Linked DNA regions of Homo sapiens. The protein of the gene in region 1 purifies or fractionates together with the protein of each later gene. This does not show direct contact. Each region holds a gene or a part of one and is shown on either strand. Other genes may lie near its edges. The genes, in order: SLC25A20, LETM1, SFXN1, OCIAD2, CRAT, ALDH2 and SCCPDH.

Region 1 (4,247 bases):
AGTCCCAGCTACTCAGGAGACTGAGGCAGGAGAATCGCTTGAATCCAGGAGGTGGAGGTTGCAGTAAGCTGAGATCGAGTCACTGCACTCCAGCCTGGTGACAGAGCAAGACTCCATCTCAAAAAAAAATAATAATAATACAAAAAATACAAAAATTAGCCCGGCCTGGTGGCACATGCCTGTAATCCCAGCTATTCAGGAGGCTGAGGCACAGGAATCACTCGAACCCAGAAGGTGGAGGTTGCAGTAAGCCAAGATCACACTAATGCACTCCTGGCTGGGCAACAGAGCAAGACTCTGTCTCAAAAAAAAAAGAAAAAGAATATAGTATTATTATTATTATTACTTTACTTTTTTTTTTTTTTTTTGAGACGGAGTCTCGCTCTCTCGCCCAGGCTGGAGTGCAATGGTGCAATCTCGGCTCACTGCAACCTCTGCCTCCTGGGTTCAAGCAATTCTCCTGCCTCAGCCTCCTGAGTAGCTGGGATGCATGCGCCACCACGCCCGGCTAATTTTTGTATTTTTAGTAGAGATGGGGTTTCACCATATTGGTCAGGCTGGTCTTGAACTCCTGACCTCGTGATCCGCCCGCCTCGGCCTCCCAAAGTGCTGGGATTACAGGGGTGAGCCACCACGCCCAGCTATTATTATTTTAATAGAGACAGGGTATCACTATTTTACCCAGGCTGGTCTCAAACTCCTGGGCTCAAGTGATCCTCTCAACTCAGCCTCCCAAAGTGCTGAGATTACAAGTGTGAGCCACCATACCCGGCCCCCACAGATTTCTTGAATGTAGAAAAGCCAAGCTTGGCACTAGACCCTTCAGGGATTCTTGAGAAGTTCCTTAGCAGCCACATCCTATTTGCAACAATCACTTTGCAGCTATGGGATGCTGCTCTGGGCCAAGCACTGGTGTAAGTGAGTACAAACACACATGATATAATTTCATTAAAGTTCCCTCAGCTGGGCTTAGTGGCTCACGCCTATAATCCTAGCACTTTGGGAGACCAAGGCAGGTGGATCATCTGAGGTCAGGAGTTCGAGACCAGCCTGGCCAACATAGTGAAACCCTATCTCTGCTAAAAGTACAAAAATTAGCCAGGCATGGTGGCACACACCTGTAACCCCAGCTACTCAGGAGGCTGAGGCAGGAGAGTCACTTGAACCCAGGAAGTGGAGGTTGCAGTGAGCTGAGAATGCACCACTGCATTCCAGCCTGGGTGACAGAGCAAGACTCTGTCTCAAAAAATAATAATAATAAGGCCGGGTGCGGTGGCTCACACCAGTAATCCCGGCACCTTGGGAGGCCGAGGCAGGTGCATCACCTGAGGTCAGGAGTTTGAGACCAGCCCGGCCAACATGGTGAAACCCCATCTCTACTAAAAATACAAAAAAATAGCCAGACATGGTGGCATGTGCTTGTAATCCCAGCTACTTGGGAGGCTGAGGGAGGAGAATTGCTTGAACCTGGGAGGCAGAGGTTGCAGTAAGCCAAGACTGTGCCATTGCACTCCAGCCTGGGCAACAGGAGTGAAACTCCATCTCAAAAAATAAAATAAAAATAAGTAAAAAAATAAATAAGGTTTTCTCTCAGTGTGAAAGTCCATGTGGGCAAGTGACATGCCCACAGTTATAAGCACAGTTGTTGTATCTGGCCTTCCTCTAAGCTGCCAGCTCAGGACAAGAGTGAGACTGTCTCTGCCTTTCCTACTGCCACTATAACAGGACATACTTCTCAAAACCAGGGAGATCACCACTGTCCCCAAGTCACACTTTCTTCCCACTCCTCCCTCCAGAGATGATTTCTATCTACTTGCCACTCCCCTCCAACTGTGATGCCATGACTTCTACCCCTGCAGACACCTGGGAAAGATGGAAGGTCCCCTCATCCTAATCTACGTCCATGCTGGCCAGGGGGAGATGCTTACTGCCAGTATTGTCAGAGATGTGACATGCATGGTGCCAAGGCTAATCTGGCAATCCAGGCAAGACCTTCTGCAGCAGACCCACCTCAGGTGACCTCCCCAGGTGACCTCAAGTGGAGGCCTGAAAGGTTACCTCGCATAAGGGTAAGCACAGTCCCTTTGTAGATGCCTCGGATCCCAAACTCCTGGTACAGCTTCTTTGCACAGTCCAAGGTACCAGTGTACTTGCTTTCTCCTGAAGAAGCCTGAATCTGGGAGGGAGGAGAGGATCATTAAGTCAGAAACATCAGAGTCACAGACCCAGCAGGTTACAGGAGACTACAAAGTAAGTATGGCCATTATGTGTTACAGCAATAAAAGACTTCACTGTCAAATTGATAAGTATCTGGAATGTGTGATCTTGGGGCAGGTACTATGAAATAAGGCTAGGTGAAAATATCAGAAAACATTCACATTGACTAGAAATAAAACCAACAGAAAATTTGAAAAACAAGTTGAGGAGGCCGGGTGCAGTGGCTCATGCCTATAATCCCAGCACTTTGGGAGGCCGAGGCAGGCAGGTCGCCTGAGGTCAGGAGTTTGAAACCAGCCTGGTCAACACGGTGAAACCCTGTCTCTACGAAAAATACAAAAATTAGCTGGGCATGGTGGTGGGCGCCTGTAGTCAGCTGCTCAGGAGGCTGAGGCAGGAGAATCGCCTGAACTTGGGAGGCAGAGGTTGCAGTTAGAAAACATATCGTACCACACTGCACTCCAGCCTGGGCAGCAGAGTGAGACTGTCTCAAAATTTAAAAATAAAAAATAAGTTGAGGAAATCTGTCAAACACAATAAAGCTATTTGGAAGGTCTAAAAAGGAAGCGACAAATACTTTAGTCATTCATTTATTCCTTCAACAAATATCCCCTGAAGACCAACTGCATTCCAAGCCTACCTGGTCATGAGAGTTGGTTAAGAAAAGGTGAACAGAAAATTTCACTCAAAGCTCTAAGTTCCCAGACAGGGGTCCTGTTCAGAGAGGGCTCCTATGCAGAGCCAGAGGAGGGCCAAAGAGAGGCTCCTACCCCGCCCCTGAGAGCCAAGAACCTGGGGGTAGGCAGGGGTAATCCCAGGAAAGATCTGAAAGACAGCTCCATGCAGGATCCACACAGGGATCCCGCTTGTTCAGGACCAAGAGGAGTCAGAACACACAAGAGCATCAACCAAACAATAATTAAAGCTGGAAAGGGAGTTCAGCTTTAACAGTTCCAAAGAGAAACACTTACAAATACATAAACCAAATAGCTTTCTTACATATCAGGATTAACCAGTTAAAAAATAATAGAAAAGGCCGGGCACGGTGGCTCACACCTGTAATCCCAGCACTTTGGGAGGCTGAGGCGGGCAGATCATGAGGTCAGGAGTTTGAGACCAGCCTGACCAACATGGTGAAACCCTGTCTCTACTAAAAATACAAAAATTAGCCAGGCGTGGTGGTACATGCCTGTAATCTCAGCTACTCAGGAGGCTGAGGCAGGAGAATCGCTTGAACCCAGGAGGTGGAGTTTGCAGTGAGCCGAGATCGTGCCACTGCACACCAGCCTGGGAGACAGAGCACAACTCTATCTCAATCAATCAATCAATACAAGAAATGGATCCCATTCAAAATAGCAATAAAAGCCGGGCACGGTGGCTCACGCCTGTAATCCCAGCACTTTGGGAGGCCAAGGCAGGCAGATCACCTGAGGCCAGGAGTTCGAGACCAGCCTGGCCAACATGGTGAGAGCCCCCATCTCTACTAAAAATACAAAACTTAGCTGGGCGTGGTGGCAGATGCCTGTAATCCCAGCTACTCAGGAGGCTGAGGCAGGAAAATGACTTGAACCTGGGAGGCGGAAGTTGTAGTGAGCCGAGATTGCACCACTGCACTCCAGCCTGGGTGACAGAGTAAGACTCTGTCTCAAAAAAAAAAAAAAAAAAAAAAAAAAAAAGCAACAAATATGTGAATTAAGCAATAGGCTTTGTATAAATAAAACTCTAAAATATCTGAGGATTACAAAATAAGAGGTCAATAAAAAGAGTCCTAATTCTAGTTGGGAAAAGTTTTCAATAAGAAAGATTTCTATTTTTCTAAAAATAATAAATGTAAGATAATGTCAATTGAGTATCAATGGTTTTTTTTTTTTTTGGTATAACTTCCCCAAAGTATCCAGACATATGTACCTGGTATGTCTGAGGAACAGAAGGAAGGTCATGTTATCTGAGAATGCTGGAGCCAATTCACAGTGACCTGGGGGGCCGTGGAGGATTGGGCATAGGAATAACATATTTACAGAATCCTATCA
Region 2 (4,247 bases), on another chromosome or scaffold:
AATCAAGGAAATTAAGTGTCTTTGTTTTTTGAGATAGGGTCTTGCTCTGTCACCCAGACTGGAGTAAAGTGGCATGATCTCAGCTCACTGCAGCCTCCAACTCCCAGCCTCCCACTCCCAAGCAATCCTCCTGCCTCAGTCTCTGGAGTAGCTGGGAGTACAGGCACACAACATCATGCCTGGCTAATTTTTGTATTTTTTGCAGAAATGGTGTTTCACCATGTTGCCCAGGCCGGTCTCAAACTCCTGAGCTCAAGTGATCCTCCTGCCTTGACCTCCCAAAGTGCTGGGATTACAGGCCTGAGCCACCAGTGCCCAGCCTTAAGTGTCTTTTTAAATTCCAAGTTGTTTTTTTCCCACGAGTAAACACCATGAGGAAGAATGGGGAAGGCGAGGGGAGGGGAGGGAAGGAACAGGCTGAGCTGGTGATAAGCACCTCACATCCAGTGGAGAACCCACATGGCATGAGGGCTGTCATAAATCTAGAAATGGCCAATTATTTTTGCCAATTGAAAAATCAGTTATCATTCCCAACAGAGCTATGAAAACAGTTTTTAAAAAATCGTATTAGGGGCCGGGCACAGTGGCTCATGTTTGTAATCCCAGCACTTTGGGAGGCTGAGGCGGGTGGATCATGAGGTCAGGAGTTCGAGACCAGCCTGGTCAACATGGTGAAACCCTGTCTCTACTAAAAATACAAAAAATTAGCCAGGCATGGTGGCACATGCCTGTAGTCCCAGCTACTCAGGAGGCTGAGGCAGAAGAATCATTTGAACCCAGGAGGCGGAAGTTGCAGTGAGTCGAGATCACGCCACTGCACTCCAGCCTGGGCGACAGAGCTAGACTTCGTCTCAAAAAAAGAAAAAAAGAAAGAAAGAAAGAAAAAAAATCGTTATTAGGAAGTAATATTTACAAAAAAAGGGAAACAAACCACCATGGAAGAAAAGAAAAAAGCCACTTTCACGTAATCATGAATAAGATCTCGTCAAGTGACCAAACTCTTCATGAGACACCTTCCCATGTTTAGAAACTAAAAGATGTGGCCAGGCACGGTGGCCACGCCTGTAATCCCAGCACTTTGAGAGGGCGAGGCAGGTCGGTCACCTGGGGCCAGGAGTTCGAGATGAGCCTGGTCAACATGGTGAAACCCCGTCTCTACTAAAAATACAAAAAATTGAGCTGGGCATGGTGGCACATGTTTACAGTCTCATCCACTCGGGAGGCTGAGGCACAAGAATTGCTTGAACCCAGGAGGTGGAGGTTGCAATGAGCTGAAATTGTGCCACTGCACTCTGGCCTGGGCAACAGAGCAAGACCTTCTTACAAAAAAAAAAAAAAAAAGGTGCACACACATCTGTGGCCAGAACGGCACACAGCCACATTACAGAGGATTGGTCCAGCCGGAATGGCTGTGGAAAGGTTACTGAATAAGGTTTATTTATAACGTGCTTTCCTCTCCAAATACTCTTTGGCCAGCTTATCAAGTATCTGACGGAAGTATTATGTATACTTTTGGGGCCAGTACAGCGATTTTACTCTTCTTGCAGTCTCAGAGTCCAGGGAGCAAATCCCACCCACCTCGCTGTAGTCCTGCACATCCTCCTTCAGCAGCTCCAGCTCCTCCTTCTCCTTGGTGAGTGACTTCTTCTGCTCCTGCAGCTTAGAGCAGGCATCGCTGAGGATGTCGATTTCCTCCTTCGTGATCTCTTCCTCCTGGGATAAAAATGGGCAAACAACAAAGCCTGAGCCAAGGGAAAGAACTGGCCTGTTCCCAAGTGACCAGCTGCTCTGTTCATATTATACGGGCAGCCCAGGGCAAGAGTCTCACTGGACAGTCATTGGTAACAAGAGACCCGCGGGGTTCAGGTTCACTGCTGCGCTGGCTGCTGCACGCAGTCACTGTCTGCCCTCATATGCCAAACCCCATTTGTTTAAAGCGCGTCATCTATGAATTGACACGTGTACTGTGAAACTTCACTACAGTCAAAGAGTCACCTCCAAATGCATCTTTGTGCCCCCACTGGGTCCCGCCACCGACCCCCAGGCAACCTCAGGTCCTGCCACTGCAGACTCGGGTGCACTTTCTAGCATCTTAGATAGACGGATCATCCAGCAAGCACTCTTTTTGTCTGACTTCTCTCACTCACTTATTTTGAGATTTGCCCCTGTGGTCGTGTGTTTCTTGTCTTGTTTTTTGAGACAGGGTCTCACTCTGTTGCCCAGGCTGGAGGGCAGTGGTGCAATCATGGCTTGCTGCAGGCTTGATCTCCCAAGCTCAAGCAATCTCCTGCCTCAGCCTCCCCAGGAGCTGGGACTACAGGCACACACTGACATATCTGTCCAACTTTTTATTTTTTGTAAAGACGGCGTCTCACTATGTTGCCCAGGCTGGTCTCAAACTCCTGGACTCAGACGATCCTCCCACCTCGGCTTCCCACAGTGCTGATATCACAGGTGTGGGCCCCGCGCCCAGCCTCTCTGTTTGGTTTTTCTTTCCCTCAGCAACATTTTACAGTACTCCGTGGACAGCACTTGCATATCTTTTTCCAAATTTATCCCTAAGTAGTTCATTTTGGGGGGTGCCATACTGTTCAAACCTTCTCTGACTACTCATTACCATAGTGAAGCACAATTGATTGTTCACACCATTTGTGAATAAAGAGTTTTCCTTTTTCCTTTCTGATCTATATGGTTTTGTTTTCTGTATTCAACTGCCCTGACTGAAACCCCCAAGCTGATGCTGAGCTCAGAGTGAGGACAGACAACCTCATCAGCGTCTCACCACTGAGGGTGACGGCAGCTGGAGGTGTTTCTGCAGATGCTTTTGATTGGGCTGAGAAAGCTGCCTGCATGTGCAGGACATCTGCATATCAGGAACAGATACTGGGTTCTGCCACAGGCTCTTTCTGCAGCTACCAAGATAAACATTCCCAGCTTTTCTAATTTAGTCTGTTAATATGGAAATTACATTTTAAAAATTTTGGCCAGGCACAGTGGCTCAAGCCTGTAAACCCAGCACTTTGGGAGGTCGAGGTGGGAGGATCACTTGAGGTCAGGAGTTCGAGACCAGCCTGGCCAACATGGTGAAACCCCATCTCTACTAAAAATACAACAATTAGCTGGGTGTGGTGGTGGGCACCTATAATCCCAGCTACTCGGGAGGCTGAGGCAGGAGAATCACTTGAGCCTGGGAGGTCAAGTCTTCAGTGAGCCAAGGTCATGTCTGCACTGCAGACTGGGCAACAGAGTGAGATCCCACCTCAAAAGAAAAAAAATTCAAGCCAATTTGCATTTTTTGGACAAATCCCATGTGATCATGATTCTTTTTACAGAATAGTTCTATTTGATTTGCTAAAAAGTGAAATTTTTTTTTTTTTTTTTTGAGACAGAGTCTCACTCTGTCACCCACTGCAAGCTCTGCCTCCCAGGTTCACACCATTCTCCTGTTTCAGCCTCCTGAGTAGCTGGGACTACAGGTGCATGCCACCATGTCTGGCTAATTTTTTGTATTTTTAGTAGAAATGGGGTTTCACCATGTTAGCCAGGATGGTCTCGATCTCCTGACCCCGTGATCCGCCCACCTCGGCCTCCCAAAATGCTGGGATTACAGGCGTGAGCCACTGCGCCTGGCCAAATTTTTTTTTTATGGCTGGGTGTGGTGGCTCACACCTGTAATCCTAGCACTTTGGGAGGCTGAGGCGGGAAGATCACTTGAGGTCAGGGGTTTGAGACCAGCCTGGCTAACATGGTGAAACCCCCTGTCTACTAAAAATACAAAAATTTGCTGGGTCTGGTGGTGCACGCCTGTACTCCCAGATATTGGGAGGCTGAGGCAGAAGAGTTGCTTGAACCTGGGAGGCTGAGACTGCACTGAGCCGAGATGGCGCCACTGCACTTCAGCCCGCGAGTTCAAGATGGAAGGTACCAGGAGGCGCCCCAGGTAGGCAGCACAGGCGCCTGGAGGCTGCACCTCACAGGCTCGCATGGGGAGTCTGAAGATGCTCCAAGCCCAGATCACCCCACAGGAGGTGACAGCAGGTTGGGCCTGTGGAGGAGGCTCTACCTTGAGGGGCCACATTGGCTTCCACACCCCTTCACTGTCTGGGCAAGCTGGCAAAGGGCCCTGAAACCTGCCGACTGGCATCTCTACCTGCCACACTGTGGGCCAGGGTGCTAAGTTCACGGCAGCGTCAGCTGCTGTGCACCCAGGCACAGTGCGGAGCCCGGCCGGACTCACTCTTTTCCTA
Region 3 (3,500 bases), on another chromosome or scaffold:
AGAAGATGCTATTTAGCAGAGGGGAAGGGTTAAAAAAAAAAAGAGTCCCAGAGTAGCAACATTCAAACATAATGGAACTAAAAGTGAAATGACTTCTTTTCTTTTACATCAATAATACCCCATTTTTTGTTTTTTATTGTCTTCAATTTTATTTTTTATTGTATATACTAAAGGAGTTCAACATGATGTTTTGATTCATAAGTACATTACGGAATGATTCAATCAAGCTAATTACCTTGTTTGTCACTTCATATACTTATGAAATAATACTTATTTCAACAAAATTATTTACATACAAAAATATACTTTGAGCTTCTGTAATGGTAAACACACTGTTGCTACATATTCATAACATACCTGTAAAACGTCATCATACAACCTGTGATGGTCATGTTCATGGGAACCTGGGCTGACATTCTTCCTATCAAAATCATCTTCTCACCAGTGTCAGGATGAAAAGCTGAATCATAGATGTACTTTGCTCTCCACAATTCATTTTCTGTAAGACCAGGAGGAACAATTCCTTGCCTAAGAAAACAACAAATAATATGGCAATTGCTCATTTCAAATATCTCCCCAGTGTCCTAGAGACAAGTGGCTACAAGGTTTTAAAAGTTTATGCTCTGGCTGGGTGTGGTGGCTTACGTCTGTAATCCCAGCACTTTGGGAGGCTGAGGCAGGTGGATCACAAGGTCAAGAGATAGAGATCATCCTGGCCAAGATGGTGAAACCCGTCTCTACTAAAGATACAAAAATTAGCCGGGTGCGGTGGCACCCGCCTGTAATCCCAGCTACTCAGGAGGCTAAGGCAAGAGAATTGCTTGAATCTGGGAGGCAGAGGTTACAGTGAGCCAAGATCGCACCATTGCACTCCAGCCTGGTGACAAAGCGAGACTCTGTCTCAAAAAAAAAAATTTATGCTCACCTAAAACACTTGTGCCTAGATGGAGTGACAAATTTGTTACATATAGTCAGTAAAAATTTCAAAACATACAGGACAATAAACACTTAAAATGAACATTTCAGGCTGGGCGCGGTGGCTTATGCCTGTAATCTCAGCACTTTGGGAGGCTGAGGCAGGAGGATTGCTTGAGCCCAGGAGTTCAAAACCAGCCTTAGCAACATGGTGAGACTCTGTCTCTATAAAAAAATAAAAATAAATAAAAACTAGTCAGGCATTGTGGCATATGCCTGTGGTCCCAGCTACCTGGGAGGCTGAGGCAAGAGGATCACTTGAGCCCGGGAGGTTGAGGCTGCAGTGAGCAGTCATCATACCACTGTACTCCAGCCTGGGCAGAGAAAGACCCTCTCAAAAAAAAAAAAAAAAAAAAAAAAAATCAAATCTATTCATCTCAAATTATCTGTAGTTTGGAAAAGCCAGAAAAGAAATTATATATAGGGAATAGGAAAGCATTCAATTTTGAAATATTCTTCAAGTGACATATTTTATAATGTATTTTGAATTTGTAAACTCTAAAATACTTTAAACAATTAGACAAAAGTTATGGTAATCAAGGATATTAATTCATTTTTATACCTATAGAATGAAAAGCTAGTTCAGGAAGAATTTTTTTTTTTTTTTTTTTAAAGACAGGGTCTCACTCTGTCACCCAGGCTGGAGTGCAATGGCATGATCTCAGCTCACCGCAGCCTTGAACTGCTGAGCTCAAGTGATCCTCCCACCTCAGTTTCCTGAGTAGCTAGGACTATAGGCATGCGCCACCATGCCTGGTTAATTTTTTTGCATTTTTTGTAGACACAGGATTTCACCATGTTGCCCAGGCTGGTTCTGAACTCTTGGGCTTAGGCGATCTGCCTGCCATGGCCTCCAAAGGGCTGGATTACAGGCGTGGGCCACCATGCCCAGCCTCAGAAGACTCTTGATGAAAAAAAAATTAGGTGCCTCATTCTTTACTTCTTCTCTTTATCAAAGAAGCACGTATTCATTGTCAAAAATTGAGAAAAAACAGGAATCCATTAGAGCAATTAAAATCACTCAAGTCTTTACCTACTCATCTCCACTGGTAATGTTTTCATGCATGTATTTTCAGTCTCTCCTCTAGAAGCTAAATGTGATGTGTTTACTTAAAGGCATCACACCAGACCTGCTGCTTTATAACCACCTTCTTTACTCAGTAATATACTGTAAACATTTCTCTCTGTCTTCAGATATTCTTCTATATAATCTATACTGGGTTGAACAGTGTCTCCCCCAAAATTCATGTCTCACCTGCAACCTCAGAATGTGACCCTATTTGGAAATGGGATCTTTGCAGATGCAATTAGTTCAAATGCCAAACGGCATACTGGATTAGAGTGGTCCCTAAATCCAATGAATGGTGTCCTTATAGGAAGGCCATGTGCAATCAGACACAGAAGAAGGCCAAGTAATGAAGGAGGCAGAGATGACAGCAATGTACCCATAAGCCAAGGTGCATCAAAACATTCCTAGAGCCTCTAGAACCTTGGAAGCCCCAAGGAAGGATTCTTAGAGGGAGCATGGCCCTGTTGACACCTTGATATCAGACCTTGAGCCTCCATAACTGTGAGGCTCAAGTTGGTGGCAATTTGTTATGGCAGCCTTAAGAAATTAATAGGCTGGGCATGGTGGCTCACGCCTGTAATCCCAGCACTTTGGGAGGCCAAGGTGGGTGGATCACGAGGTCAGGAGTTCAAGACCAGACTGGCCAACATGGTGAAAACCCGTCTCTACTAAAAATACAGAAATTAGCCAGTGCAGTGTCAGGCAACTGTAATCCCAGCTGCTCAGGAGGCTGAGGCAGGAGAATCACTTGAACCTGGGGGGCAGAGGTTGCAGTAAGCTGAGATTGTGCTACTGCACTCCAGCCTGGGCAACAGAGTGAGACTCTGTCTCAAAAAAAAAAGAAATGAATACACCAACTTTTTAAGTACTGTATAGTATTCTCCTACATGATTATAAGATACTGTAATATATACCAATCTCCTAGTGTTGGGCATATTAATTGCTTCTAATTTTACTCCATTTGTAAAGGATGAGGAAGTAAATAAACCCTCATACATAAATCTATCCCCACATCCAAGATTATTCTGAAAGAAATGAGTAAATATGCTGGAACAAAAGCTATGTACAACATTAAAACTTTGGCTATGTCTTCTATCTTTTTTCTCTACTTGACTAGTCTTTTTTTAAAAAATTACCATCCACAGCAGCATCATTGTTATTTATGTAATTTGTACGCGTATTTTATACACTGCGATTAACCCCAATTTTTATTTTTTTGGTTGTGTTATCTGCTGTCCTGAAAATTATTATTTTTATGTAATCAGGTAGGAATAAAGTTTCTATCTAGAAAGATTATACAAATGTTCACCGATATTTCTAGCATTCTCAGAATAGTTGTTTTCTTTTTGTCATTTAGGTTTTTAATGAATTTGGAATTTATCTTAATATGAAAATGTGGACCGAGCACAATGGCTTACGCCTGTAATCCCAGCACTTTGGGAGGCCGAGACGGGCA
Region 4 (4,247 bases), on another chromosome or scaffold:
TGGACCAAAACCAGCCCCACGGAGCTGATCTTCAAAAAAATGGAATTTACTCTGGCATACTCCTATGTATGATACCTTTCCAAGGCCAAATCCCAAGAGACCAGCAACTGTAAAAGCAGGTTGGGAGAGATTAGTTGAGAATCTTCTCCATTAGTTATTTTCTAGAGCTTTAAAAATCAACGCTGGTAATTTTAAAATTAAAAGGACCACGCTAAATCAATGAATGAAGACTCTGAGAATGAAGTCTCTATTTAAAAAGAACAGGATTGGGAACTGGAGACTTCCCCATCTCAACTTTGCACTGGTGGTGGAAGGGCCAGGACAGAGCAAGCCACAGTGCTGTCCTGGAGACAGATGGCCAGAGAGGGCCCACCTGTCAAGCAAACGGTTGAGGCCACGGGGGCAGGGGAAGGTGGCTGGGTTGTGGCTATAGGTAGCTTCCAAATCACTGGGTAGAAATGCCCCTAATCTTCCTTATGGCCTTGGAGTAGTGGAGAGCTTCAGTCCATCTTGCCTATAGGAGAGAGGTCACAAAGGAGAGGGACCCTCCTATGGAAGAGATCTCGAATCTGTTCCTCCTGCTAGGAATGAATGTGGTTTCAGACTATCAACTAAAATGTGTCCTTTTTGTACATAAAAGATCTATTGATACCAGGTGAAGGAAGATGAAACCCCAAGTTTGTGGTTACTCTATTATTAGAAATCCCCTGATTCTTAAAAATTACTCATTTTTTATATCCATCGTAGAAAACATTTTGAAAAGACTGGCCAGGGCAAAAGAAGAAAATAAAAATCCATAAATGATCTATCATGCAGAGGCTCTGCTATTGATAATCTCATTATATATCCTGCCAGTCCCTCTTAGTCCATGCTTTAAGGATGGTCTAAGAAGAAGTCCCAACTGCTAAGCTGTATATCAGAAAGTGTTGAGTGAACTAAGAAATGCAGAGTGGCAGAAAATAGGGGCTGATTTTTCCAAAAGTCAATACAGGCAGTTTAGTTAGGCTGGACATTCGTATCTCCAGTTGCTAGTAATGTCTTTTTTTCAAAGTTTTTATTTATTTATTACTTTTTAAAAAAATAGATACAAGGTTTCACCATGCTGCCCAGGCTGGTCTCGAACTCCTGGACTCAAGCAATCTACCCACCTCAGCCTCCCAAAGTGCTGGGATTACAGATGTGAGCCACCACACTTGGCTTGCTTTTTTATTTCTATGACTTACGTGCAACTTTGGGCAATGATCCAAATCTAGAATTAGCTGCCAAATAACCTAAGGAGTAATAAAGAAAAACATTATTATTTCATTTCATAAATTAAATTATAAGTTATAAATTATAAGTTATTCTTAAAGTATAAAGAAACCTCCAAAATTTAAGACATAAAATTTCTTAAATGTATACATATTCTGACTTTAAAAAGATGATCTTGGCTGGGCGCAGTCACTTACGCCTGTAATCCAGCACTTTGGAGGCCGAGGCGGGCAGATCACCTGAGGTCAGGAGTTCGAAACCAGCTTGGCCAACATGGTGAAACCCCGTCTCCACTAAAAAAATACAAAACTTAGCCAGGCATGATGGTGGGTGCCTGTAATCCCAGATACTCAGGAGGCTGAGGCAGGAGGATCGCTTGAACCCAGGAGGCGGAGGTTGCAGTGAGCTGAGATGGCACCGATGCACTCCAGCCTGGGTGACAGAGCGAGACTCCATCTCAAAAAAAAAGATCTTAAAGGAGTTATGATTCAATTCTCAGTTGAATTGAACTCCCAGATAGTCATTTTAGGCAAATTACAAATATTAGCTGTAATGTGTAGAAAAATAATATGAAAAAGACAGTTCAAGACTGATTCAAAGACATCAAGCAAAGGTAGGGCTAACAACAGTGTTCAAAGAGATTAGTCATCATCCTCTTTTTTTTAAAATTATACTTTAAGTTCTAGGGTACATGTGCACCCTCTTTTCTTTTTAAGTAACTTAACATAGAAAGTTTCCATTTGGAGATTCACAGTGTATATCATTATTTTACAATGCAAACAGTACAACTCATGGTAGTTAGAATAATGGCCTTTTAGAGATACCCACATCCGAATTCCTGGAAAAGGTGAATATATTATGTCCCAAAAGGGGGATTAAGGTAGAAAATGGAACTAATGTTGCTAATCAGATGACTTTAAAAGAGAGAGATGATCAAGGTGTACCCAATGTCATCCTTCAGTGTGGAAGAGGAAACTGGTGACAGGCAGAGAGATGGCAGCAACAGAAGAACTTGGCTCAATGTTGCTGACTTTACAGTCATAGGAAGGGGCCACCGGTTAAGAAATATGCATGGTTCTAGAAACGAGAAAGGAAAAGGAAGCCCAAGAGCCTCCAGAAGAACACAGCTGGGGCGACGCCTTGATTTTAGCCCAGTGAGACCCATTTCAGCATTCTGATTTCCAAGGACTGTAAGATAATACATTTGTGTTGTTTTAAGTCACTCTGTGGTAATTTGTTAGAGAAGTTATAGAAAACTGATATCAAACTCTGAAAAAAATGTATTAGCATAGATGCAAAAAATGGTAGATGTCTTAGTCTGTTTTCTGCTGCTATAACAGAATACCATACGCTGGATAATTTATAAAGAACAGAAGTTCACTTGGCTCACAGTTCTGGAGGCTGAGAAGTCCAAGAGCACAGAGCTGGCATGTAGTGAGGGTTATCCCATGGCAAGGAAGTGCATGAAACAGAGAGCAAGAGGAGAGGCTGAACACATCCTTTTTATAAGGAACTCACTCCCATGATAATGGTAGTAATCAATTCACGAGGGTGGAGCCCTCATAACTTAACCTCTTAAAGGCCCCACCTCTTGATACTGTTACAATGGCAGTTAAATTTCACCCTGAGTTTTGAAGGAGACATTCACACCACAAGCAGTAGATTTGGAGTATTTTAATACTTATAAAACATAATCCTGGCTGGGTGCGGTGGCTCTTGCCTGCAATCTCAGCACTTTGGGAGGCTGAGATGGGCAGATCACTTGAGGTGGGCAGATCACTTGAGGTTAGGAGTTTGAGACCAGCCTGGCCAACATGGTGAAACCCTGTCTCTACTAAAAATACAAAAATTTGCTGGATGTGGTAGCACAGGCCTGCAATCCCAGCTACTAGGGAGGCTGAGGCAGGAGAATTGCTTGAACCCAGCAAGTGGAGGTTGTAGTGAGCCGAGATCACACCACTGCACTCCAGCCGGAGCGACAGAGTGAGACTCCATCTAAAAAACAAACAAATAGACAAACAAAAAACCCATAATCCCCATAGATGTCCCAGCCCCAATATTTTTATGTGTCAAAAATGATCTGAAAAATGCTATCTTCAAATTATAAAAATAAAATCATATTTAATATATGACCTTTATGGACAAGAATGATATTGGTCAAAGTGGGATTCTCCTAGATATGTGACATGTGGTTTTTGAGACCCAGAAAAGAACTAGGACTTCTTCCCTCATATTTACTGGTACAAATGTTCCTTTTAAGATCCTGGTAATCAAGGCTGGGTGTGATGGCTCATGCCTGTAATCCCAGCACTTTGGGAGGCTGAGGTGGGAGGATCACAAGAGCTCAGGAGTTCGAGACCAGCCTAGGCAATATAGTGAGACACTGTCTCTGCAAAAATTAAAAAAAAAATTAGCTGGGTGTGGTGGCATGTGTCTATAGACCCAGCTACTTGGGAAGCTGAGATGGGAGCGTCACTCGAGCCCAGGAGGTTGAGACTGCAGGGAGCCATTATATCACTGCACTGGATGAGGGTGAGACCCTGTCTCAAAAACAAACAAACGAACCAAAAACCAACAAAACAAAACCCCAAGATCCCCATAAAGTCCTGATAATCAGAAGCCAGGCATGGTGGCACGTGCCTATAATCCCAGGTACTCAGGAGGTCTAGTGGCGAGGATTGCTTGAGCCCAACAGTTTGAGGACAGCTTGGGCAACATAGCAAGACCTCGTCTCATTTAAAAAAAAAAATAGCAAAATCCTGTTAATCAGCAGTGTTTGATAAAATGGGCTTAAACAAGATAAGGTGCCTTCTTGCCACCTGTGGACTAAGGAATGTCTCTGGGTTCTCTGGTCAGGTGGAGACAGGGAGGAGATGAAGAAGGAAGAACAGAGAGGAAAACAGGAAAACGCTAAGAGGCAGGGAGAGGTTATGTGGTGAGATGCAAGGCAGCTGCTGGTCCTTACGGTCTCTTGTATGGAGGAGACAGGGTGCCCT
Region 5 (3,997 bases), on another chromosome or scaffold:
GGGCTACACCTCCTGTCCCCTTGGGGCACTGGGCAAGTGGCTGCCCTCTCCTGCTGAGTACACCACCAATGGTCAGGCCTGGCAGGTCCCTGCGCCTGATTAGAGCTCAGGCTCAGCCCAGCCTCCCTCTTTACCCGCTTCCTTGTGGTCCTGAGGCTGGGCCGGTTTCCACCCATAGCATCCCTTTCTCCACCCCCTGCTGCGGGACACCTAGGTGGATGTGGCCTGGGGCTGGGGACCTGGCTCTAGGGAGGGGCTTCTTGGAGCCCCGGCCTAGAGGAGACAAGTGTGGCCTCTGTGAATCCTGCTCTGCCATTTAGCGTCCCGGTGACCTTAACCTCGCTAAGCCTGCTTCCTCATCTGACAAACGGAGAAAACCAAAGGCCCCACTCTCGGATGACTGTCCCAGCTTAGTCAGGTCACAGAGCCCTTCACTCACAGGCCAGCCAACCTCCCCCAGCCCACCCCGGCATCCGCCCTTGTGGTTTCACACAGGCCTTCCTCACAGGCCAGTGTCCTAATGGGAGACTCTCCCCTCTCCACAAACTGCACGCTTGGTTTTGCCAGGATGCCCTGCCTCAGCCATGGACACGGGGCTATGGGCAGGTATGTGGTTCTGCTCTGATCGCACCTGCCCACCCCCGAAGGTGTCTGTCCTGGCAGCGGCTGGGCCTGGGGCAAGCTGAGCCTGCTGCTGTACTCCTACTTTTGCTGGGCTCAGTTGGGGGAAGTAGAATGACACCCTGGGCCCCTGGGTATTAGCAACATTCATCAGCCCACCAGACCTGGGCCTGCTGGGCCCCACAGTCCCCTGGGAGAGTTGCCCCTACCCACAACCCATGGGACTTGGGAAGGCCCAAGCCAGAGGTAGGTGGGAAGCTGCTGGTGAAGGACGCAGCCCTGGCTCTGGTATGGTTCTGGGCCCAGTGCCCCAAGGTCACAGCTGGACCTTGGCTCCTGGGCCAAAGCCCTCAGGCCCACCAGCTGCTTGGACACCAGCTCCGAGGCCCAGGGAAAGCTGAAGAGGGCAAGGCCAGGTGCCTGCCCCCACCCTGCCTGCCTCTCAGCTGAAACACCTCTTCACCAACACAATTCCCCTTTATTGATGACCTTCCACATTAATATCATACAGCAGGGCGGGGGCAGGAACCAAGCTGAGTGGAACCAGAGGCGGCTCGCTAGCAATGTTATCCACAGGAGCACAGCCGCAACGGAGGTGAAACCTCACACCCTGGCCCCTCGGCCCCAGACAATCCTGTCTCCAGGTCCTGGGAGTTTGGGAAGCAGGGTACAGATGGTGGCCTGGTCATGGAGTTGGCAGGGAGTGGCCGGGGCTGAGCTGGTGAGACAAAGAGCTCTTGCCAGTCTCCTGCTCTGGAGGGCTGGTTCCCTTCCCCAGAGGAGGCACCGGTGGAGGACGTGCCAGGGGCCCGGGCCTAACGTCCTGCTCAGCCTCTGCACTCAGCCCCAGGTCGGGCCCTGGCAGGTGCTGGGATGACCCACGGAAGGCACTTGGCTGGGGCCTGCAGGCCCCCTGGAGGATGCGGTCCGTGGCTCAGTAGATTTGGGGGGACCAGGGAAGAGGGAACCAAGGAAGAGGGAACCAAGGAGCTGAGCCCTGGTGGGTGGCCCATCCCAGGGTGGGCTTGGCTGTGGCATTGGCAGGCCTGAGTCCTAGGGGCTCAGAGCTTGGCCCGGGGGTGGCTCTGCAGCAGGGCACGCATGTCCAGGAGCGCCTTCTCCAGGTAATGCGCCAGGCGGGCGGCGTTGGTCTCCGCGCAGCTGTTGTAGGCCGACAGGGAGAAGTTGATGTGGGCCTCCATGGGGTTATAGCAGACACCGTAGCCGTCGGGGACCACGGGCCCGAAGAACATGACACAGTCTGTCTTGGCAGGGACCTGGGGACGGCAGGATGAAAGCTCTCAGCTCCCCTACCTTGACGCCCCCAGCACTTCCCAGGCTGCCTGTGCTTCCGCCAAGACTGCAGGCCCCTTGTGGGCAGGGATCATGGTCTGTCCCCTGCTATATCCCAGCAACCACTACAGGCTGGCACGAATCAAATGTTCCTTTATACCTGACCAGTGAGTCAGCGAAGCTGATTCTCCCATGAGGAGCACTGACCCCTTCTCAGCCTGCCTGGGCTGCAGAGAGGCCCCTGCCCCCAGCTCCTCCTCTGGAACTCAGCTGTGTTGGCAATGGGTCAGTGGGGCCTGTGTAGGCCACATCAAACTACCAGTGGGTTCTCTGCCTCCAGCCCCCGGGGCACCTGGGGCAGTGGCCCACCTGGCTGGTGGAGAGGTGGAAGTGCATGGCGATGGCGTAGGAGGTGTCCATGAAGATGTCGGGCATGCTCACCAGGTCCTCGATGGCCTGCAGCTTCAGGCCCAGCAGGTGTCGATCAAAGGCCTCCCCGCGGATGGCCTGTTGGGGTGGGAGAGCTGTCAGGAGCAGGGGCTGTGGACCCCCGGGGTATCCCTGCCCTCTTCAGCCTGTGGCAGCGCCACCCTTCGCAGGCACTGGCCACTCAAAACCACAAGACCAGAGTATTCTGGCCAGAGAGAGCCTTCGTTTCACAGATGGGGAAACCAAGGCTCAGGGAGGGGCGGGGATTTGCCCAGGGAGGCAGGAAAGTGCAGGGTTGTAGGGCAGGGCCCTGGAGCTGGGTGACCTAGCCCCATCCTGGCTGCAGGGCCTTGGCAGGTTGCTTAGGTTCTGGAACTGTAGTGTCTTCATCTGTAAAGAGGGGTGAGTCCTACACTCCCCTCGCAGGGTGGCGGTGAGCTCTAAATGGACGTGTGCATGTAGCACGGTCAGAGCCTGGACACACAGGTGCTCAGAGACAGAGCCAGGACACGCATCCAGACAGCCACCTCCCTGACTGCAGCCCAAGCTGCTGGAGGGCAGGAAACTGGCTGTCTGCTGGACCATGTATACCTAGCGTCAGGGAGAGATACCTAGCATCAGGGAGAGAGTGTGACCCAACATCTAGGGCCCAGGCCAGCCCTGGAACCTGGAACCAAGGCAGTTACTGGGCCCAGGCTGGGTTTCTCCAACTTTAAAATGGGGATATTTGGCCGGGCACGGTGGCTCACGCCTATAATCCCAGCACTTTGGGAGCCTGAGGTGGGTGGATCACCTGAGGTCAGGAGTTTGAGACCAGCCTGTCAACATGGTGAAACCCTGTTTCTACTAAAAATGGAAAAATTAGCCAGGTGTGGTGGTGGGTGCCTGTAATCCCAGCTACTTGGGAGGCTGAGGCAGGAGAATTGCTTGAACCTGGGAGGCGGAGGTTGCAGTGAGCCTAAATCACACCACTGCACTCCAGCCTGGGCGACAGAGCAAGACTCCATCTCAAAAAAAAAAAAAAAGAAAAAGTTGGGGGCTATTCAGCCTGGCTCCAGGTGCTCCCAGGTTGGGGGAGATGTGGTCCTAGCAAAGGGTTGGCAGCCATTGGCTGCAGGGACGGACAGTCAGAGGGACAGACAGATGGCTGACACTAAGGGACAAGTGAGTAGGCACAAGCGGGCTCACTTACCCGGTCGGTGTAGCCTCGGTGGGCCTGCACGGCCTTCCGCAGCAGCTCCACCTTCTGGTGCTCCTAGAGTGGTGAGGGTCAGAGGGAGCTGAAGCACTGTCCCTTCTCTTCTGGCCCACCTCAGTAGCCCACCCCCACCCAGCACTAGATTCTGAGCTCTTTAAGAGGAAATATTGGGGCTGGGAGCGGTGGCTCACGCCTGTAATCCCAGCACTTTGGGAGGCCGAGGCAGGTGGATCCCTTGAGGTCAGGAGTTTGAGACCAGCCTGGCCAACATGGTGAAATCCCGTTTCTACTAAAAATACAAAAATTAGCCGGGCATGGTGGCAGGCACCTGTAGTCCCAGCTACTTGGGAGGCTGAGGCAGGAGGATTGCTTGAACCCGGGAGGTGGAGGTTGCAGTGAGTCGAGATCACACCACTGCACTCCAGCCTGGGCAACAGAGTGAGACTCTTTCTAAAA
Region 6 (3,797 bases), on another chromosome or scaffold:
ATGTTCCCAATCCCCTAGTAGTACAACCTATGCTTTGGAGTGACACTCCTCCTGAGATTTATCGTGATCAGCAAGTATGGGCTCCAGGACCCCTAACTCCCCTTAAAATAGAACAGTTAGACTCTCAGAACAATGTCATTAATTATACCACCCCACTAGAAGGACTCCCCTTGTGTATCACTACAAAGACATCGCTTAACTGTAGCTGTCTTATAATTCAAGCTCAAGAATGGTTGAGTCATTATGGAAAAGTCATGTGCCTATTAAGTCTTGGTTCTATTAATGTAACAGGTGTGCTAACCAACCATTCCCGGCCCAATCACCCTAATCGTGCTGACTATATGGAATGGATTCCCTTCGATAGTTACTACCCCCCAAGACATGGACCCAATGTCTTGACCCACTGGCTAGAAAACAATCTATGTTAACTGGAGACATTGTGGATTGGGGACCTAAAGGTCAACTATATGGAAAACATGAAAATCAGAAATCATGGCACAAACTTCGCTGGCATTGGTGGCAAGATTTTAATGCTTCTTCTTTATACCACACCGGGATCTAATCCCAGTCTGCCACCCAGATTGCTTGACATGGAGCAGGCTTTAGCCCGCCTCTTCCTCAGTGGCATTATCTAGGGAGGAAAGGACCAATCCAAGAGATGTTATGGAAGGCAGCACTCCCATTTATGAATGGCGGGATACTATCCAGTGATAGCAATAGTAAGCAACACAGTCTTAATGTTACATTTGTAAAGAATATCACCACTCAATTTATGGTTTGTCTTTTTAATCCTTATGTCTTTTTTGGCAACTAAGAAGGACCAGCTCCAGGTAAACAATATCCAATTGACCTGTAAATCTTGCCAGTTATGTCACTGCATTAATCATAGCACATTGCAAACACATAATGTCTCTACTTTGATAATTTTGGGTCGCATCCCTGGGCTATGGATTCCTGTTAATCTGTCCCAGCCTTGGGCTACCACACCTGCTTTGCACTTCATGAAACATCTTCTAACTCAACTTACTCATTGTGCCCATAGAGCCTTAGGCATGATAATTTTTGCTATTGTTTCCTTGGTCACATTAATAACTTCCGTTGTGATGTCCTCTGTAGCTTTGCATAGTTCTATTCAAACAACTCAGTACATGGAAAACTGGATGCGTATAGCCAACCAAGCATGGCCACTTCAGAATAAAATTAACACTGAGTTACAAACTGAAGTGGCATTGTTGAAATCCACGGCTCTACAGTTAGGAGAACAAGTACAAAGCTTGCAATTGCAACAGCAATTGCACCATCATTTTAATCACACTCATATTTGTGTAACCAACTTAGAATATAACCAAAGTGAGTATCCATGGGACCTTGTGAAAGCCCATTTGCAGGGAGCTTGCACATCCAACATCACCTTTGATATCGGTGAATTACAAAACAAAATTCTTGATTTAAATAAACAAACTCAAGAGTTTCAGCCTTCTTTAGAAGACTAGACCAAATTCCAGCAAGGCCTGGAGAGCCTCAACCCTTGGACCTGTCTAAAGCACCACATTAACATCTTATATGTAGTCCTTGGAATAATGTTGTTTTGTCTCTGTCTTCTGTTCATAGTCTGTAAAATTGGATGGACTGCCAATCAGAAAATGAGAGCTGCCCAGCCTGGCCTTACATTCTTTCAATTAATTCATAAACAGAAAGGGGGAAATGTAGAGAGCTGAATGCCCATGGGTTGTGACCAACTCAGCATTCCACTGAGGCTATATGATCAAACAGCAAACTGTTTATCATAAATGCAGAATGTGGGCAAACTCACTTCTGCTTCAGCCGCCAGAAGGTTCGCTGAGGGCAATCACTCCCTGGCGCCATGCTCTTTGAGGTTATCTACTGAGACATCTAGAGCCTACTGTTCAAAGAATGCAATCTTGTGAGCCTGCTGTGAATCAAGCTGCTGACCGACAACCACCCCCCCTTCTCCCTATCTCCTTTACCCAATAAATACAAAGGGCACTAAAGCTCAGGGCCCTTTTTCACTAGAAGCAAGGAGCCCCCTGACCCCTTCTTCCAAATATACTCTTTGGTCTTTATCTTTATTGCTGTGTTCGTCCCCTTTTGTTCAGTCCAACAGGGATTAGGTCCACGTCACCTTTTAAACAACCAGCTCTTGAGTGAACTCATTACCATGGGGGAGGACACCAAGCCATTCATGAGGGATCCACCCCCATGATCCTAACACCTCACACCTTGCCCCACCTCCAACACTGAAGATTACATTTTAACATGAGATTTTGAGGGGATAAATATCCGTACTATCAGAGAGGTTACTTCAAATGTTCAGGTGCATGACATTTTGATATAGCTTTAAAAATAAGCTATTAGGGCTGTGCCCAGTGTCTCATGCCTGTAATCCTAGCACTTGAGAGGCCAAGCCAGCAGGATGACTTGAGGCCAGGAGTTCGAGACCAGCCTGAGCAACATAGCAAGACTCCATCTCTCTCTCTCTCTCTCAAAAAAAAAAAAAAATATATATATATATGCATGGTAGTGCACGCCTATAATCCCAGCTACTCAGGAGGCTGAGGTGGGAGGATCACTTGAGCCCAGAAGTTCAAGACCAGCCTAAACAACACAGTGAGACCCCATCTCTACAAAAAATAAGCCATTAGACTCTCAGGTTATTATTTTTATTATTGCCAGGTATCCTCACCCTTACTCCTGGCATGGAAGATACAGTAGGAGTCATAGATGGCTGTAGGTCAGGTGCTGTCTCATAAGTAAGCCATATCGCCAGGCATCACATCTATGCTCTCACTCTAATATATGTATATTGTAACCCCTTCTATGTGCCAAGGCAGGAGGATCACTTCAAGCCAGGAGCTGAAGACCAGCCTGAGCTACATAGTGAAACCCTGACTCTCCAAAAATAATTAGCTGACTGTGGTGGCACATGCTTGTAGTACCAGCTATTTGGGAGGCTGAGGCAGAAGAATCACCTGAGCCTAGGAGGTAGAGGCTGCAGTGAGCTATGATCGCACCACTGCACTCCAGCCTGGACGACGGAGTTAGACCCTGTCATTAAAAAATATAAAAAATGAAAATATTGTTAAGAAGCTCTTGAGAAGGCTCCAAGTACAGTTCCTGGCATGTAGTGGGTGCACAGTTAATACTTCTTGGGGCCACAGGATTGGGCATCAGATTTACATTTCACTGAAACTTTCTATACCATCTGCATCTATTTCCTTTTGAAAAATGTAAATAAAATCAATACAAATGAACAAATGTCAGCTCTGTTTTATCCTTCACAGAATAAGCCAAATGAGAGTTGGAAGTGACTGCAGAGATTGTGAGGAAATGGAAGCTCAGAAGTTGTGTGGTTTGTCCAAGTTCCCCTGACCAGCTCTGGGACCCTGTTTTTTTCAGTTGAGGTGAAATTCACATAACATAGCATTTACTTTTTTTTTTTTTTTTTTGAGACAGAGTCTCTCTGTGTCACCCATGGAGTGCAGTGGCACAATCTTGGCTAACCGCAACCTCTGCCTCCCAGGTTCAAGCGATTCTCCTGTCTCAGCCTCCCAAGTAGCTGGGCACATGCTACCAAGCCCAGCCAATTTTTTGTATTTTTAGCAGAGATGGGTTTTCATCATGTTGGCCAGGCTGATCTCGAACTCCTGGCCTCAGGTAATCCACCCGCCTCAGTATCCCAAAATGCTGAGATTACAGGCATGAGCCATGGCACCACCTGGCCACTTTTTTTTTTTTTTTTTTTTGAGACAGTCTCGTTCTGTCACCCAGGCTGGAGT
Region 7 (4,247 bases), on another chromosome or scaffold:
CAGGATCCGACCCTGTTGCCCAGGCTGGAGTGCAGTGGCGCAATCTTGGCTTACTGCAACCTCCAACTCCTGGGTTCAAGTGATTCTCATGCCTCAGCCTTCTGAGTAGCTGGGATTGCAGACGTGCACCACCATGCTTGGCTGATTTTTGTATTTTTAGTAGAGATGGGGTTTCGCCATGTTGGCCAGGCTGGCCTCAAACTCCTGGCCTCAAGTGATCCACCCACTTTGGCTTCCCAGAGTGCTGAGATTACAGGTATGAGCCAACGTGCCCAACTCCTTATTAGGTTTTGATATTATGGCTGGGCGTGGTGGCTCATGCCTGTAATCCCAGCATTCTGGGAGGCCGATGCAGGTGGATCACTTGAGGCCAGGAGTTCAAGACCAAGCTGGCCAACACGGTGAAACCCTGTCACTACTAAAAATACAAAAATTAGTCAGGTGTGGTGGTGTGCACCTGTACCCCCAGCTACTCAGGAGGTTGAGGCAGGAGAATCGCTTGAACCCAGGTGGCAGAGGTTACAGTGAGCCAAGATCGTAGCACTGCACTCCAGCCTGGGTGAGAGAGAGAGACCCTGTATCAAAAAAAAAGGGGGGGGTTCGATACTACTTTTATGATAGTTTCTAGATGACTTAAAAGCTTTTCACCATTTTCTATGTTCTGGGTTATTTAAAATAACATGGGAATTGTTTTTTGTTTTTGTTTTTTGGAGACAGGGTCTCACTATGTTGCCCAGGCTGGAGTGCAGTGGCATGATCATAGCTCATTGCAGCCTTGACCTCCCAGGCTCAAGTGATATTCCTGTCTCATTCTCCTGAGTAGGTGGGACCACAGGTGTGTGCTACCAACTCCTGGCTAATTTGTTAACTCACCAGCTCAAGTCATCCTCCCACCTAGCCTCCCAAAGTGCTGGGGTAACAGGCGTGAGCCACCTCGCCTGGGCTTTTTTTTTTTTTTAATTTGTTTCCTCCTTTTTGAATCAATTTTTGTAATTTACACTGTCTCAGTATTTTCCAGTATTTTACCAATTGATAAACTGCAAATGCATATTAATATCATATTGGCATGCTGATGATGATAATCAGTAGTTACTACAGAGACACATGAGGTTACCATTTTAAAGGCTGTAGTAGAGCTTAATGCCTGTTAACACATAACTTCCTGTGGTCAGGCAAACCTCAATTGAAGACCTAGTTCTTCTACTTACTAGGTGCATTACTAGGTGCATTACTAGGTGCATTACTGAGTGAGTTACTTAAGCTTCCTAAGCTTTAATTTCCTCATCTACAAAAAATGGAGGAAGATAACTACCCTATAGGTATATTTTTAAAAAGTTACATAAAACACTTAGCACAATGTTGGGCATATGGTAAGCATTCAATAAATGTGAACATTTAAAATGTTTAGGTTGATTTTACACTAGTGAATTTTACCTTTATTTTTCTGTAATGTTATAAAGGTAACTGAATTTTCTTTTTTTTTTTGAGACAGAGTCTCGCTCTCGCTCTGTGGCGCAGGCTGGAGTGCAGTGGAGTGATCTCGGCTCACTGCAAGCTCCACCTCCTAGGTTCACCCCATTCTCCCACCTCAGCCTCCCAAGAAGCTGGGATGACAGGTGCCCGCCACCATGCCCGGCTCACTTTTTGTATTTTTAGTAGACATGGGGTTTCACCGTGTTGGCCAGGATGGTCTCGATCTCCTGACCTCATGATCTGCCCGCCTTGGCCTCCCAAAGTGCTGGGAGTGCAGGTGTGAGCCACCGTGCCCGGCCTAAAGGTACCTGATTTTTAAAAGGGAATTCAAAATGAAAACATGACAGAATTGAGATTCTAAGAATTATGCACAGTCCGCTATTTTAATTGATTCAGTTTAAAGCATGAAGTAGCTATAATAAGCACAGACCTATAAGAAATGATGTTGTAGGGAGGGAAAAAATTCAGAAAACTGAAGCTAAGACCTTACCATCAGCGCTCTCCTTTGAGCTATCAATGGAATACCACACGAATACCATATCTGAATGCTAGAAAGGAGTTGTCGGCTTCTAAATATGTCTGCAAAATTACACTAAATATTTCCACTTCATTAAACCGAAATTTATGTGTTAATTCTACGTTTTTCCTTTTTATTTTTTATACCTGAGGTTCTCCACTGATGTCGATACAACTGGCTCCATTTTCAATACATGCTTTTATTACAGGTTCTCCATAAAACCGATACTAGGGAAACAAAAAGAACAAAGAGGTTATTCTTGCTTGACAAGTTTAAATGAATAAAATGCCATCTAATCCTGGAAGTAAACAGTCCTAGTTATCAAGAAATCAACTGTTAATAAAATAGCCTAAAGATAAATTCAGAAAGTGGCCAGGCACAGTGGCTCACACCTGTAATCCCAGAACTTTGGGAGGCCGAGGCAGGTAGATCACTTGAGGTCAGGAGTTCAAGACCAGCCTGGCCAACATGGTGAAACCCCATCTCGACTAAAAATACAAAAATTAGCCGGGCGTGGTGGCACACACCTGTAATCCCAGCTACTCGGGAGGCTGAGGCAGGAGAATGGTTTGAACCTGGAAGGTGGAGATTACAGTGAGCCAAGATCGTGCCACTGCACTCCAGCCTGGGCGACAGAGTGAGACTCCGTCTCAGAAACAAAAAGATAAACTGAGAAGATACCTGCACAATACCATCTCTCACAGTGTGAATAAATAAAGGCATGATGGAATTACAGAGCAATGTATGCTTACCTCTACCTGAAGACAAAAGGAAAAGTTTCATACAAGTGATTCCCTTGAGTTGAACCCTAAAGAACAAATAAAAATTTTCCAGGAAAAAGAAAAATCCAGATACAGGAAAAAGTAAATGCAGAGGTTAAGAAAAAGGAGCTGTTCCTGTTGCTTGAAGCAGGAATCAAATTCACTTGAGTAGGAAGTAGAAAGAGATGGGTCTGAAAAGGCAGGCTACGGCCACATCAGGAAGGACCACATGTGCCATGCTAACAAGTTTCAACTTTATCCTTTCTAGTTTACTTGGCTTTCCAGAAGAATTTTAAACAGGATAGTGGTATAAGACTTATAGCACAGACGATATACTAAAGATGAGACATACAATACTAAAAAGGTGGAAATGACTGGATTTCCTGACTAGCTGGGCTGGACATGGGGGCCAAGAACCAGTGGTATTATTGGTCAAAATTAAAAACAAACCAACAGGAAGAAGAGAGTTTGCAAAGGATAAGTTTGATACTGAACAGAGCAGATATTCTGAGCCTGTATGATATTAGATTTCCCATATTATCTGTTATTCAAACTCAAGGAATTAAAATACAAATTTTCATATGTAAAAGCTAATACATCAGAATTCAGTCCCATTTCCAAAGAAGCATGACAAATCTTTTCCTTTGTGAAGAAGTAGATTAGAAGCACAAACTCCTCTGCTTTATTCATTCCTGGCAGCAAAAGATGGAACAAGGAAATCGTTTCTTTCTTCCAGCCTTTGAGGAACAAGGGACACTTAAAAGACACAATCGACCTTTACAAATAGGTCAGATGGGCTGCCCTCTTACCTAACTCCAAGACCTCACACCTCTTACTAAGAATGGCGGATAACACTGGAATTACAGGACTGGGAGAAGTGTGTGAAATTCGAGTTCCTACCCTCCCATTAACAAACCACATGAAATTAATGAAGAACTCTACTTCTGAGGCAGTATGGTATCATGGAACAAAGGATTTCAAGGCAGTAAGACCCAAGTTCACACCTGGAATCCATCACCTACTAACTATATGAATTTACTTATAAATCACTTAAATTGCCTACCAAATGAATAAAACACACATTTTAAACATATTTAAATAGAACTAAAGTTGAGATTAAAACAGAAGTTGAAGCTCCATATGCTTTCTGCACCCAGTGGATTATCCTGGTTGATCCTTAGGGTTTGCACACATCCATTTTAAAACTCATTTGGAGCTTTCTCGGCCTTGTTCTTAAGTTATTTCACCCCCAAATTTCTCAAGTTGGCCATGAGTCCACCTGCTTTAGAATCACCTGGGTTGCATGCTGGTCACTCACTCCCACTCCAGACCCCCAGAATCAGGCTTTCTGAGGTAGACTCCAGTAACTTGCATTGTAAATAAGCCTCACAGGTGATTCTTGTGTACTTCAAAGATGGAGAATCACTGCCCCAGACATTCTCCCAGGAAATCTCACCTACTCTCCCAACTTCAATAAAATCTGTGCTGTGACCTCC

What was found.
Region 2: the proteins of SLC25A20 (region 1) and LETM1 fractionate together in Homo sapiens (co-fractionation; one large-scale study listed by BioGRID). This does not show direct contact.
Region 3: the proteins of SLC25A20 (region 1) and SFXN1 fractionate together in Homo sapiens (co-fractionation; one large-scale study listed by BioGRID). This does not show direct contact.
Region 4: the proteins of SLC25A20 (region 1) and OCIAD2 fractionate together in Homo sapiens (co-fractionation; one large-scale study listed by BioGRID). This does not show direct contact.
Region 5: the proteins of SLC25A20 (region 1) and CRAT fractionate together in Homo sapiens (co-fractionation; one large-scale study listed by BioGRID). This does not show direct contact.
Region 6: the proteins of SLC25A20 (region 1) and ALDH2 fractionate together in Homo sapiens (co-fractionation; one large-scale study listed by BioGRID). This does not show direct contact.
Region 7: the proteins of SLC25A20 (region 1) and SCCPDH fractionate together in Homo sapiens (co-fractionation; one large-scale study listed by BioGRID). This does not show direct contact.

The regions. Positions count from the first base shown.
Region 1 is NC_000003.12:48,860,484-48,864,730, forward strand, and holds part of SLC25A20 (mitochondrial carnitine/acylcarnitine carrier protein), read right to left. Parts: intron 2,177-4,247; coding exon 2,059-2,176; intron 1-2,058. UniProt on the Homo sapiens protein: Mediates the electroneutral exchange of acylcarnitines (O-acyl-(R)-carnitine or L-acylcarnitine) of different acyl chain lengths (ranging from O-acetyl-(R)-carnitine to long-chain O-acyl-(R)-carnitines) with free carnitine ((R)-carnitine or L-carnitine) across the mitochondrial inner membrane, via a ping-pong mechanism.
Region 2 is NC_000004.12:1,817,760-1,822,006, forward strand, and holds part of LETM1 (mitochondrial proton/calcium exchanger protein precursor), read right to left. Parts: intron 1,714-4,247; coding exon 1,579-1,713; intron 1-1,578. UniProt on the Homo sapiens protein: Plays an important role in maintenance of mitochondrial morphology and in mediating either calcium or potassium/proton antiport. Mediates proton-dependent calcium efflux from mitochondrion.
Region 3 is NC_000005.10:175,506,060-175,509,559, reverse strand, and holds part of SFXN1 (sideroflexin-1), read right to left. Parts: intron 529-3,500; coding exon 358-528; intron 1-357. UniProt on the Homo sapiens protein: Amino acid transporter importing serine, an essential substrate of the mitochondrial branch of the one-carbon pathway, into mitochondria.
Region 4 is NC_000004.12:48,892,783-48,897,029, forward strand, and holds part of OCIAD2 (OCIA domain-containing protein 2), read right to left. Parts: intron 1,272-4,247; coding exon 1,224-1,271; intron 108-1,223; coding exon 1-107. UniProt on the Homo sapiens protein: Has an essential role in the assembly of mitochondrial respiratory chain complex III. Is also required for STAT3 activation and plays a role in cell migration.
Region 5 is NC_000009.12:129,093,715-129,097,711, forward strand, and holds the end of CRAT (carnitine O-acetyltransferase), read right to left. Parts: intron 3,599-3,997; coding exon 3,536-3,598; intron 2,422-3,535; coding exon 2,284-2,421; intron 1,899-2,283; coding exon 1,683-1,898; 3' UTR 1,080-1,682; downstream 1-1,079. UniProt on the Homo sapiens protein: Catalyzes the reversible transfer of acyl groups from carnitine to coenzyme A (CoA) and regulates the acyl-CoA/CoA ratio. Also plays a crucial role in the transport of fatty acids for beta-oxidation.
Region 6 is NC_000012.12:111,814,505-111,818,301, reverse strand, and holds the end of ALDH2 (aldehyde dehydrogenase, mitochondrial isoform 1 precursor), read right to left. Parts: 3' UTR 770-3,797; downstream 1-769. UniProt on the Homo sapiens protein: Required for clearance of cellular formaldehyde, a cytotoxic and carcinogenic metabolite that induces DNA damage.
Region 7 is NC_000001.11:246,733,945-246,738,191, reverse strand, and holds part of SCCPDH (saccharopine dehydrogenase-like oxidoreductase), read right to left. Parts: intron 2,218-4,247; coding exon 2,137-2,217; intron 1-2,136.